Linked DNA regions of Homo sapiens: region 2 is linked to region 1. Evidence: fine-mapped expression QTL. A gene starts in region 1. The other region holds a variant in brackets. All regions are shown on one strand. Distances are between the middles of the regions.

Region 1 (5,381 bases):
AAAGAAAGTGGGAAATGGGCTGGGCGCGGTGGCTCACGCCTATAATCCCAACACTTTGGGAAGCCAAGGTGGGCAGATCACCTGAGGTCAGGAGTTCGAGACCAGCCTGGCCAACATGGTGAAACCCCGCCTCTACTAAAAATACAAAAATTACCTGGGCATGGTGGCAAGCGCCTGTAATCCCAGCTACTCAGGAGGCTGAGGCAGGAGAATCTCTTGAACCCCGTAGGCGGAGGTTGCAGCGGGCCAAGATGGTGCCATTGTACTCCAGCCTGGGCAGCAAGAGCAAAACTCTGTCTAAAAAAAAAAAAAGAAAAAAGAAAAGAGGGAAAAGGAAAGACAGAACCAGAAAAAATTTTTCAGAGGCTCCCCCACCAGACCCTTCTTTCAACTCATTGGCTAGAACTGGGTCAATGACTTCCTTAGCTGTAAGAAAGACTGGGAAATCAGGAAGGGGATTGTCATGGTCGTCTTGGATCAATCATAATCCTGGGTTCTGTCACTAAGGAAGAAGTGGAGAATAGACTGATAATTGGGAAGACAATTCACAGTGTCTGCCACTGAACAAGTACCATCTACTAGGAAGAGCTAGTGCCTTCTTGAAGTCAATTTGTCTTAGTGGAGCTAGGTGGAAATGAATCCCTCCCTAATGTCCGTAGGAACAAGATGCTAATGGTATTGTTACTTCACATGGATAGAAAACACTGATCACCTGAATGGAATGCCTCTTGAAGCTTTCAGCCCCAAATGTCCAAATTGATTCCTCACTCACCACCTCCCCATCCCTACAACCAGGCATTTTAAAAAACAAATTCTTTGATCCAATCCAGCATCTCTTGAGATAAATAACAGGCTTTCCATCCAACTGGCTCATGCTTGGGCTGCTCAGGAGATCTGATGGGAACTCTCTAGGCCCATGGCAATGTCTTCTCTAATAGTTTGACTTTTCTTCCTTTTTGAATTAGAATACTAGTGGTTATGTATTTAGTGAGCTTTAGCACTGGAGGTCCAGAGAAGGAGAGTGGCTGGGTCATGTTTTGGGGTTTTGGGTTTTGTTTTTGTTTTAGTAACAATCACCCATGTAAGAGGGCTTATGAATTTTATGTTGGAGAACTGTTCTTCAGGTTCCATACCTGTGGTCATCTATTATGATTCTAAAGGAGGAAAGGGCAAGAGGAACTCAGGACAAACAGGTGGAAAGCAAGTGCCTCATCAGCTTCCACTCACTACACATAGACCTTTCGTCACCTAAATCAAAAGAGAAAACCATGTTCTTGACGACACTGGAGTGAAAGACATCAAAAGTGTATTATTAATCCTTGCTTTCGACACATTGCCCAGCTACAAACATGAGTAATTAAGAGATCAGCTAAGGGCTGCTTGGGGAACATACTTTGACAGCAGCCACTACAGAACTTGAACCTGAATACAGGCTGCAATCCACGTGTGAGATCTTCCCTGCTGGCATTGGCTGCTCCCTCACCTGGGTCCCCAACATTTCACACAAGCCTCAGCACAGCGCTGAGCGCCAGGTTTCTCCTCTATTCCAGACCAGCAGCAACTTTAGAGTTAGACACCTTGCCCTGAGGCCCTGCAGAGTGTCTGGCTCATGGCAGATACTCAAACACCGAGGCTGAGTGAACAGTCCACGAGTACCCGCTTAGCTCCTCCACTAGCAGGAATGCCCAGGACATGGGCAATACAGAATCCTCACCCAATGATCTCAGCACCTACAGCAATGCATTCAGCCTCGGACACAAACTTTCTGCATCCTCCAAGGGCCTGAACAAGAAATGTGACAGAAGCAAGGTTTTCCGTTCTTCAAGCTTATTTCAGGTTTGTTTTTGTTTGTTTCTTTGTTTGGTTTGGTTTGGTTTTTTGAGACAGGGTCTCACTCTATCGCCCAGGCTGGAGTGCAGTGGTTCATTGCAACTTTTGCCTCCTGGGTTCAAGAGATCCTTCCACCTCAGCCTCCCGAGTAGCTAGGACTAGAGAGCGCCACCACACCCGGCTAACTTTTGTATTTTTTGGTAGAGACAGGGCTTCACCATGTTGGCCAGGCTAGTAACTCCTGACCTCAAGTGATCCGTCCACCTCGGCCTCCCAAAGTCCTTGGATTCCAGGCTTGAGCCACCGCGCCCGGCCCTATTTCAGTTTTCAGTCTGCTTTCTCCTCCCTTCGACTCTACCTGGGACATCAATCTACCTCCCCAGGCTACCCGGATAATTCTCTCATCACCTGGCTAATTCACACTCAGTCTTCAGTTTTTCTCGTCGACGTCAGCTCCTCAAGAAGCCCTCCCTGACCTACTCCCCACCCCAAGTTTAGATCAGGTGCTCCCTCTGGGAGCCGGCTCAGGAGGCCTCTGCCTCCTCTTGGTTGTGCTGTAATCGCCCATTGGTCGCTTTCCTTTTCTAGACTGTGAACTCCACGAGGGCAAGAGGTAATCTTGTTCTCTCGTCCCCATCGCTTATGACACCGCCTGGAGCTTAGTAAGGGCTCAACATTTTGGAATAAATTCAAGGAGTGGCGTGTCCCCAGAGTAGCTGTGCTGGGCCGTGTGCCGCCCGCGCAACAGCTCCTATTTGGGGAATTCCAGCCTTAGGCCTCAGTCTCTCCGCAGCTGAGACTTGGGACTCTGTACCCGGGAGGCGCGCCCGCCGACTTGGGACCCGCCTCCAGGGTCCCAGAGCGACCCCGCCCGCCGGGGCCGTGTCCCTGCCGCGGGGCGGCGGCGGCTCCCAGGCAGGAGCCTGCGAGCAGGTGGGGGCGGCGGCCCCGCCTCCGCGTCCCGGCAGCACCAGAGCCGGTGGCCGGGGAGCGAGCCGGGCGCACCGAGCGCAGCTCGGCGGTAGCGGCGCCGCTTGGAGCACGGGCGCTGCGGGACGGAGCCCGGAGCCGGAGGCGGCGGCGGCGGAGACGTCGGCCGGAGCTCGAGTCCAGTCCAGCCCCCGGCTCCGCCACCTGCAGGTAGCGGCTTCCCGCGCGGGTGCGGGTCGGTGCCCGAGGGTGGAAGGAACGGGCGGTGTGGCGGCCGCCGCCCTGGTCGGTCCCGGAGCAGAGTGGCCCGGCCCGGGACAGAGATCCTGAGGGCGTGGGAGGGCCGGGGAACCCCCGCCGGGCTGCAGCCCCGGGCCCAGGAGGTTGTCGACGTGCCGCGCGGCGCTCACGCCCCCCACCCGCACCCTGCCACGCCGCCCCGGCCGGGCCGGGCCGGGCCGGGCGGAAACAAACCGCGGGGTGGGGAGCGAGGTCACCACGGGGTTGCTTGGTGACTTCTCCGGACTGGACTCCCCGGTGAGCAGCCCCTGGCACCGAGGCCGCCTCGGCCTGGTCCTTCGCGACGCTCTCTCTTCTCCGCTTCGCCCCCGGAACAAAAGGCTGGGGTCTCGCTGGGGAGGGGGCTGTCGCGGGAAGGGCTGGGGCGGAGTAAAAGAGAGCTAGGAAATTGCAGAGCCGGAGGTGGCTTGGGGAATACAGAAGGAGCCCCCTAGTGAGGAAGCCAACTCCAGAGATGTGAAGTGACTTGTCCAAGGTCACACAGCTCATGGGGACAGAGCGCAGGTCTCTGGACACCCCTCCCGTGCTCATCTCCAAGCCCCTGGGGTCAGTAGTCAGACTGTGCTCCAGCAATGTACATTTGGCCACAAATGGGTTTAGGGTCCTTTGGAGGATTAGGTGGTGGGTAGGTAGGTGGCAGAGCAGATTTCCCCCAGCCCCTGACACGCACTCTCTGAAGGTGGCGGGGAGGGCGGGCACCCGGCCGCCCTGGACCTGGAGGAGCGCCGCCCGGGCCCCGTGGGCAGGCAGGCACCGGCTCTCAGGAACAGCGCCTTTGGAGGGTGGCGTGCCAGCCGCGTGGGTGTGCCCGTGGCGGGCGCCGGGGCGGCGTGGGGACCGTGTGTGCGCCTCCCTCTGGAAAGAAGTTTCTGCAGGGAAAGGCCAGGAGAGCGGTTCCATGCGCCCTGGGACAGTGTGGCCAATCCCTGACACTCAGGGCGCTTTGTAACTGGCTGTATTGGGGAGGAAAGTTACTCTGTAGCAGGAAGTTAGGCTGTCTCTTCGCCTCTGTGCCTGGGGTCCTTGGCTGTAAATGAGGGCCTTGTTTGGCATGACCAGTGTGATTTAGAAGGTTTGTGCCCCTCCGCCTCCTCCTTTCCAGAATCTTTTCTCACTTCACAGGGAGGACTGGGAGTGCACTTCTTGTGCCCAGCATTAATAGTTATCACTGGGACTCCTGCCTCCCTTCAATTTTTTTTAACTTTATCATTACGAAAGAGGTCAGAGGAGAGGTTGTTTTTGGGCCTTGCAAGGAGATAAACTCCAGGTCAATACCTGGACAGGACATGAGGGAGGCTTCTGGGATGCTAGAAATGCTTCTCACCTTGACCTAAGAATTACTGAAGTTATACCCTTGAGACTTGTGCACTTAACGTAAATTCTACCTCAGTGAAAAAGTAAATAAAAATGTGATGCTAAAGTCCACTCATTGTGGTAACACACAGATTGCTGCAGTTTTCCAGCTAATGCATTTCAAAGATACATTTAAAAACCACAAAAACCAAATCAGAAAAGAAGTGGCGAGGAGGGGCAAAAGAAAGTTAAGAAGTAACTGGAAATGAAACATACACTGCAGATGCCTTTATGTGCATCACCTCCTGTGATTCGCAGCAATTCTTTAACAGAGATATTGTTATTGTGCCTTTTTTACAGATGAGAAAATAAAAGGTCACAGAGGTTAAATTACTTACTCAGGGTAACAGCCTGGGCACACAGACTTCAAATTCTAGACAGGCAACCTTCAACAGGCAATTTGTGGCCACCTGAATCGGGGCAGAGCGGTCAGGGTGACAGACACTTGTAGGCTGGCTTCCTGCCATTGCCCCCTTTTTGTTCCTTTAGGAGTCTCTGTTTTCACGTAATTGTGAGTGTGACATTGTGTCACAGATTGCAGTTACCCAGCAGCAGAAGGAATGGAGGAAGTGTGTGTGTGTGTGTGTGTGTGTGTGTGTGTGTCTAAGAACATACAGTTATAAGAACAGGGGAAAGCCAGCTGGTCTAGCCTGGCAACGCTCTTTTTAGGAGACTTATTGTTCAGAAACCATATAGTACAGGTTGCGAGTTTGCAGTCACTCCAACACATACACAAAGAATAAAGAATATAACCTAGGAAAGATCCGAGAAAACAAAATGTGATTAACAGTAGAGGGAAACATAGAATTTTCACCAGGATGGCAGTCAACTTTTTTACATTCTAGAATTTATAAATATGTTTATTAATGTTGAAGTTTTTAAAAAAGAAACCTACACAAATAACTCAGCAAAAGGAAGGAAATGTGTTTTCTAGCAAATGTGTTATAAATATTTAATATATATGAACT
Region 2 (5,381 bases), 210 kb before region 1:
ATGAACTTCTGAATGATATTTTCTTCCCAGATTATCTGATGCTTACCTTGAGGAGAAAAAAAAAAGTGAAGGGAAGTTACTCTTGTACTCAGTTGACTCAGTATAGTAAAGGTCAAAGATTACCATATGTATTTAAAAATTTCTTTCTGTGAGCAAATCATTTAACTTCAACCACACCTTAACAATCTCAAGAACAGATACATTCTTAGTTGATGAATAGCTTGCAATAGGGATCCTTATCTTTTCTAATTCTCTAACTTACATTTGAACACAGCATTAAATGGCAAAGGTCTCATTTTAAGACTAGCTCTCTCTTCTTTAGAAAAGCAAGTTAATTATAATTGAGTTTTAAGATAATGCAAGATCACACTAAGTGACTTTTGATTTAAAATCTTAACTTTCTGAGACAGAAAAAATCAGCCAAATTGTTTAGCAAAATCTTACTTTCTTTAGACTAGTTCTAGAAATATACTTTAGACAAATAATTTTCTTTCTTTGGGGGATTAAAACCTGGAAGGAGATATTAATTTTCCTTCTGTTTAGGTAGATCTAAGGAGGGATTGTAGATTTTGGGTTCACAGTGAACTCCATAGGTCAGCAAACTAAATGACAAAAATAAGTTATAAGGAGCACTATTTCTATACAAAATGTATTTATTTTATTTTGTAAGAAAAGAATAACGTGTTGAATATTAAGGAAATTTTTATTTTACTTGATTCCAAGAAGCAAGATTATGCAGATGTGGGGTCTTGTTCTTCCACACCTGGCATCCTAAATGGTTAAAATATTTTTATTGTAAAATCATAACTTCTATATTTCAAGACTCCCAGGAAACATTACTTATTAAATCCATAATATTTATAGGAATGCCCCTAAATTAACAAACTGTAAGAAAAATCTGAATGTACAAAACAGATCACTTAGGGACAGAAATTATTTTTTATTACCAAAACACTCTTTAACTCAAAAAAGATTCACCAAAAATAGTCTTAGATTTGGAATTATCATAGCGTTTACAGGTGCAGAGGATAAATGATGGAAAAGGCTCCAAAATGAGGATAATGAGGCCCCAAATTGTAGATCAATGTATAAGTAAACAAAAATGCTTTACCATTATAATGTAAGCTAATGGGAAAATATGATTTGCTTTGTCAAACATTGATTTATATAGGAAATGGTATAAAATCTAATGAAAGGAATTACATAATTCTTTATATAGCAGATTATGTGTCTAGAAGATTTTGCCCTCTCCAAAAAACAAAATTTAGTCAGGACAGAATATAACAGATATGAAATGACTTTAGCTAAGTTGGAACACAGAAATATCACAAAGTTAATTAAGCTAATAGCTTATTTTCATCTTTTATCATTAAAGTGTTGGCCTGTCGTTGGTGGCTCACGCCTGTGATCCCAGCACTCTGGGAGGCTGGGGCAGATGGATCACCTGAGGTCAGGAGTTCGAGACCAGCCTGACCAACATGGTGAAACCCCGTCTATGCTAAAAACGCAAAAACTAGATGGGCGTGGTGGCGGGCGCCTTTAATCCCAGCTACTCCGGAGGCTGAGGCAGGAGAATCGCCTGAACTCAGGAGGCGGAGGTTGCAATGAGCTGAGATCCGCCATCATACTCCAGCCTGGGCCACAAGAGCAAAACTCCGTCTCGGGGGAGGGAGAAAAAAAAAAAGGTGTTGAATGGCTTATACAAATTGCAAAAAGAATAAAATCAATATTTAGGCACCAAGGGCAAAAATTATCATAGTAAGCTATTTAATAAATACTTTCTGATATCTTTTGCTTGAATATTACTGAAAGGGAAAATAAAAGGCTATAACCACCAGGACAGGCAAACAGGGAGAGGCCAGGGGTAGCTGCTTGACAGGGAGGGAGTTTTCAATGATCTCTAAAACCAATTCTAGGATAAATCCAAAAAATACGATGTCAATTAACTCAGACTGTCACACACAATTCCTCATATAGCTGATAAAATAAAACTTAGCTCTATATCTTTGAGTTACATAAAAAAATTTCTCTTTGGTGCTGATCTTTCTCTTTTTTAAAAAATGTCGAGCATATTAAAGACTATAATTTCACAGGATATCAAACTATTCATCTACTTTGAGTACCAAATTATTATCGAACTCAGCGCACCCACATATCTTGGTGTTGCTTAAGGATAGGGACCTTGTCTTTTTTGTGAAGTGCCTAAACCATAATAGGGGCTCAATGATATTCACTGAATGCATGAATTAACAGATTATCAATACCTAAGATGTCTAAGGATGACGTGGAGAAAAACTAACATATTCTTCAGCCAAACAGTACTGGATGAGACTATTGCCAAATCCAATAAGATGTGTATTATATTGTTTTAGAAATTTTGCATGGTCTACAGCATATTAGAAGTCTTCTGAATGTCAAGAGGACCTGGGAAAATCCCAAGATTATCCCAAGTAGTCCAGGTAGAAGCATAGAATCTAGAATTTTTTCACCTGAAATGGACTCTAAAGAATAATTTGGCATAAAGAAAATGTAGCATGTGTGTATATACGTGTGTGTGTGTGTGTGTGTGTGTGTGTGTGTACACCATGGAATACTACTCAGCCATGAGAAAGAAAAAATAATGTCTTTTGCAACAACTTGGATGGAACTGGAGGCCATAATCCTAAGTGAAATAACTAAGGACTGGAAAACCAAATACCTCATGTTCTCACTTATAAGTGGGAGCTAAGCTATGGGTATGCAAAGGCAGACAGAGTGATAGATACACTGAAGACTCAGAAGTGGGGAGGATGAGAGGGAGTTAGGGATTTAAAAAAAATCACCTGTTGGGTATACTACATACTGTTTGGGTGATGAGTACACTAAAAGCCCAAACTTCACCACTATACAACTTATCCATCTAATAAAAAACCACTTGT[A/G]CCCCTAAAGCTATTGAAATAAAAATATTTTTTTAAAATTATACTCTATCCAACCTCAACCTTTACAGATAAGAATATCCAGGCCTACTTGAGTCATTTGCCTAGTAACAGTTAATTAACATCATAGATGAAAATGATACCGTTTCCCAGTCAAGGGTTCTTTAGACAACACATGCTGCTTTTTATAAAATAATGGAATTATGAAGATGATCAAATAAGAAATGACAACTTTGTATTATTTTTTATTGCTTCTTCATAGTTGATTTCTATCCCAGATTCAAGACATGTTGATACTGTGGAGTTGGGCAAACATGGAGAATAGGAAGATGCCAGAAAGCTGCTGGAACTGCTACAACAAGATTACATGAAACTAACAAGTGTCTTGTTCCACCCTCACATGGTAGCAGGGAAGGGAGTAGGTTTGGGAGGATTCATGTTTGGCCTCCCTAGCAAAGGTAGCATTAGTCTTTCAGAGGGTCTGACTCAGTCAGTTTGAGTTGGTGTTTAATGGTATTGCTAAGTTGCTTAAAGGTACGTGACCGAGGAGATTTGGACAGGACATGATGTTCAAAAGTCCATTTATTAACTAGATAACAAACTCTTAGACAGATTTCTGGAGTGAAAATGTTGCTTGGAATGTAGTCGTATTCCAAGTAAATATTTTGCAGTAACATTCACAAACTATTCTAGCCTACATACTCCCACTCTTCCAAGAATTAGTTAAGTAACATTTTTCATGTTGATGCAATCAAATTATTACTGTTCAAAAATATTGCTAGTGAAGAAAAGATCAATTATAGGAACTTTAAGCTCTAATGAAGAAAAATGCACTTGATATTGAATGATAATAGCTTTCTCCAGGTATCATTTATCACTGAATAATATAGAATTAAGTTTTCAGGGCCTCAGTGAATTAGATAAGGCATTGCACAAATACACACACATATATGTATACACACTCATACTATACATATAAACATACAGTTGGTTCTTGTTAGTCACAGTAGTTATGTTTTTTAAAGTCACCACTTTACTGAATTACTAATTCACTGATTCACTTAATAGTAAATACTGAACCATTGCTCCCAGGGGAAATAGAGGTTAGGTTCCTGTGTGCCTCTTTTTTTTTTTTTTTTTTTTTAAGATGGAGTCCCATTCTGTTACCCAGGCTGGAGTGCAATGGCGCAATCTTGGCTCACTGCAACCTCCGCTTCCTGGGTTCAAGCAATTCTCCCTGCCTCGGCCTCCCCAGTAGCTGGGATTATAGGTGCCCGCCACCATGCTCATCTAATTTTTGTATTTTTTAGTAGAGGGGGTTTCGCCATGTTGGCCAGGCTGGTCTTGAACTCCTGACCTCAGGTGATCCACCTGCCTTGGCCTCTCAAAGTGCTGGGATTACAGGCATAAGCCACAGCACCCAGCCCCGATGTGCCTCTTGTCACAACGTTTGTCAACTGAACAGTACATAACTTTGTTTTATGTGTGTTTCTGTTTAAAGTCACCATACTTAATATGTATTATTGATTCATTAACATTGAACTCATGGCCAACAGCACTAACTATAACACATGCTTGAATGAAGCTTATCTAACATGGATTTTCTCTGTAGGGTATATCATAACCTTCTTGTTCTTAGGAATGCTAGCTGGCACTTCAGCACTATGCTTGGGGGCCATTTGAAACAGCAAAATACTACAAAAAGCACAAAATGGGAGTAACATGGCACTAAATAGCAGAAAAGGACACTTGTTTATAGTATGAGAGCTGAAACAAGAAGGCATAACCTTGCCTGGGAACCTATGTGCCCGTGAGGTGATTTGAATTTTTCACTACTCTGCATATGGCTGTGACTACCAAAGTATCCTAAGTATGGAATTGGAATAAATTTTAATAAGTCAGTAAATTTGCAAATATGGACTCCATGAATAAGGAGGATTGACTGAACACAAGTACTATATGTATACATATATGCATATATGCATTCATGTGGCATTTCTCTGATGACCAAATAAGTTTGGGCCAGTGTTGTTGGCAGTTGTGACTGTTTGCAGCCACAGTGTCATTTCTAAAACGTAACAAGAGCACGTTATCCCTACCTAACAGGTTGAACATTTAGATACCCCTGCATGCTTTGGGTGGTTAGACAGCTGTAAAGTGTCCATTCTTCTTACTTGCAGATTCTTAGAACTGCACCTTTTCTTGAGCCCCTCAAAGCCCCTATTTCTTTTCGATATGGTTGAAATGAGAAAATGCTAAGCTTCATTTTCTAAAGTAGAAGGAAATAAAAAACTCCAAACCTCCTCTACCTTTCTGGCGTCGGGAAGAATGTGAGCCTACAGTCCTGCCCTTCTCAGCAGCTGGCGGTGGCTTTCCGTGTCACTTGGCGTGAATCCATGGGAAGAGGGAGGGGCATGTAGACTTTAGATTGACTTATTGCCTAGCTCTGCTGATTTTCTGCGTGAT

Evidence for each region.
Region 2: its variant is fine-mapped to the expression of WIPF3 in lung (TOPMed, PIP 0.98).

What each region holds. Positions count from the first base shown.
Region 1 is chr7:29,803,709-29,809,089 of GRCh38, forward strand. WIPF3 (WAS/WASL interacting protein family member 3) reads left to right here and starts at 2,800. Exons shown (of 9, transcript NM_001080529.3): 1 at 2,800-2,970. RefSeq lists an enhancer at 2,536-3,445.
Region 2 is chr7:29,593,515-29,598,895 of GRCh38, forward strand. No RefSeq gene overlaps it. Among named protein-coding and RNA genes, the nearest start is that of PRR15, 32 kb to the left of the region's middle. The variant A/G (reference allele first, on the strand shown) is at 2,919.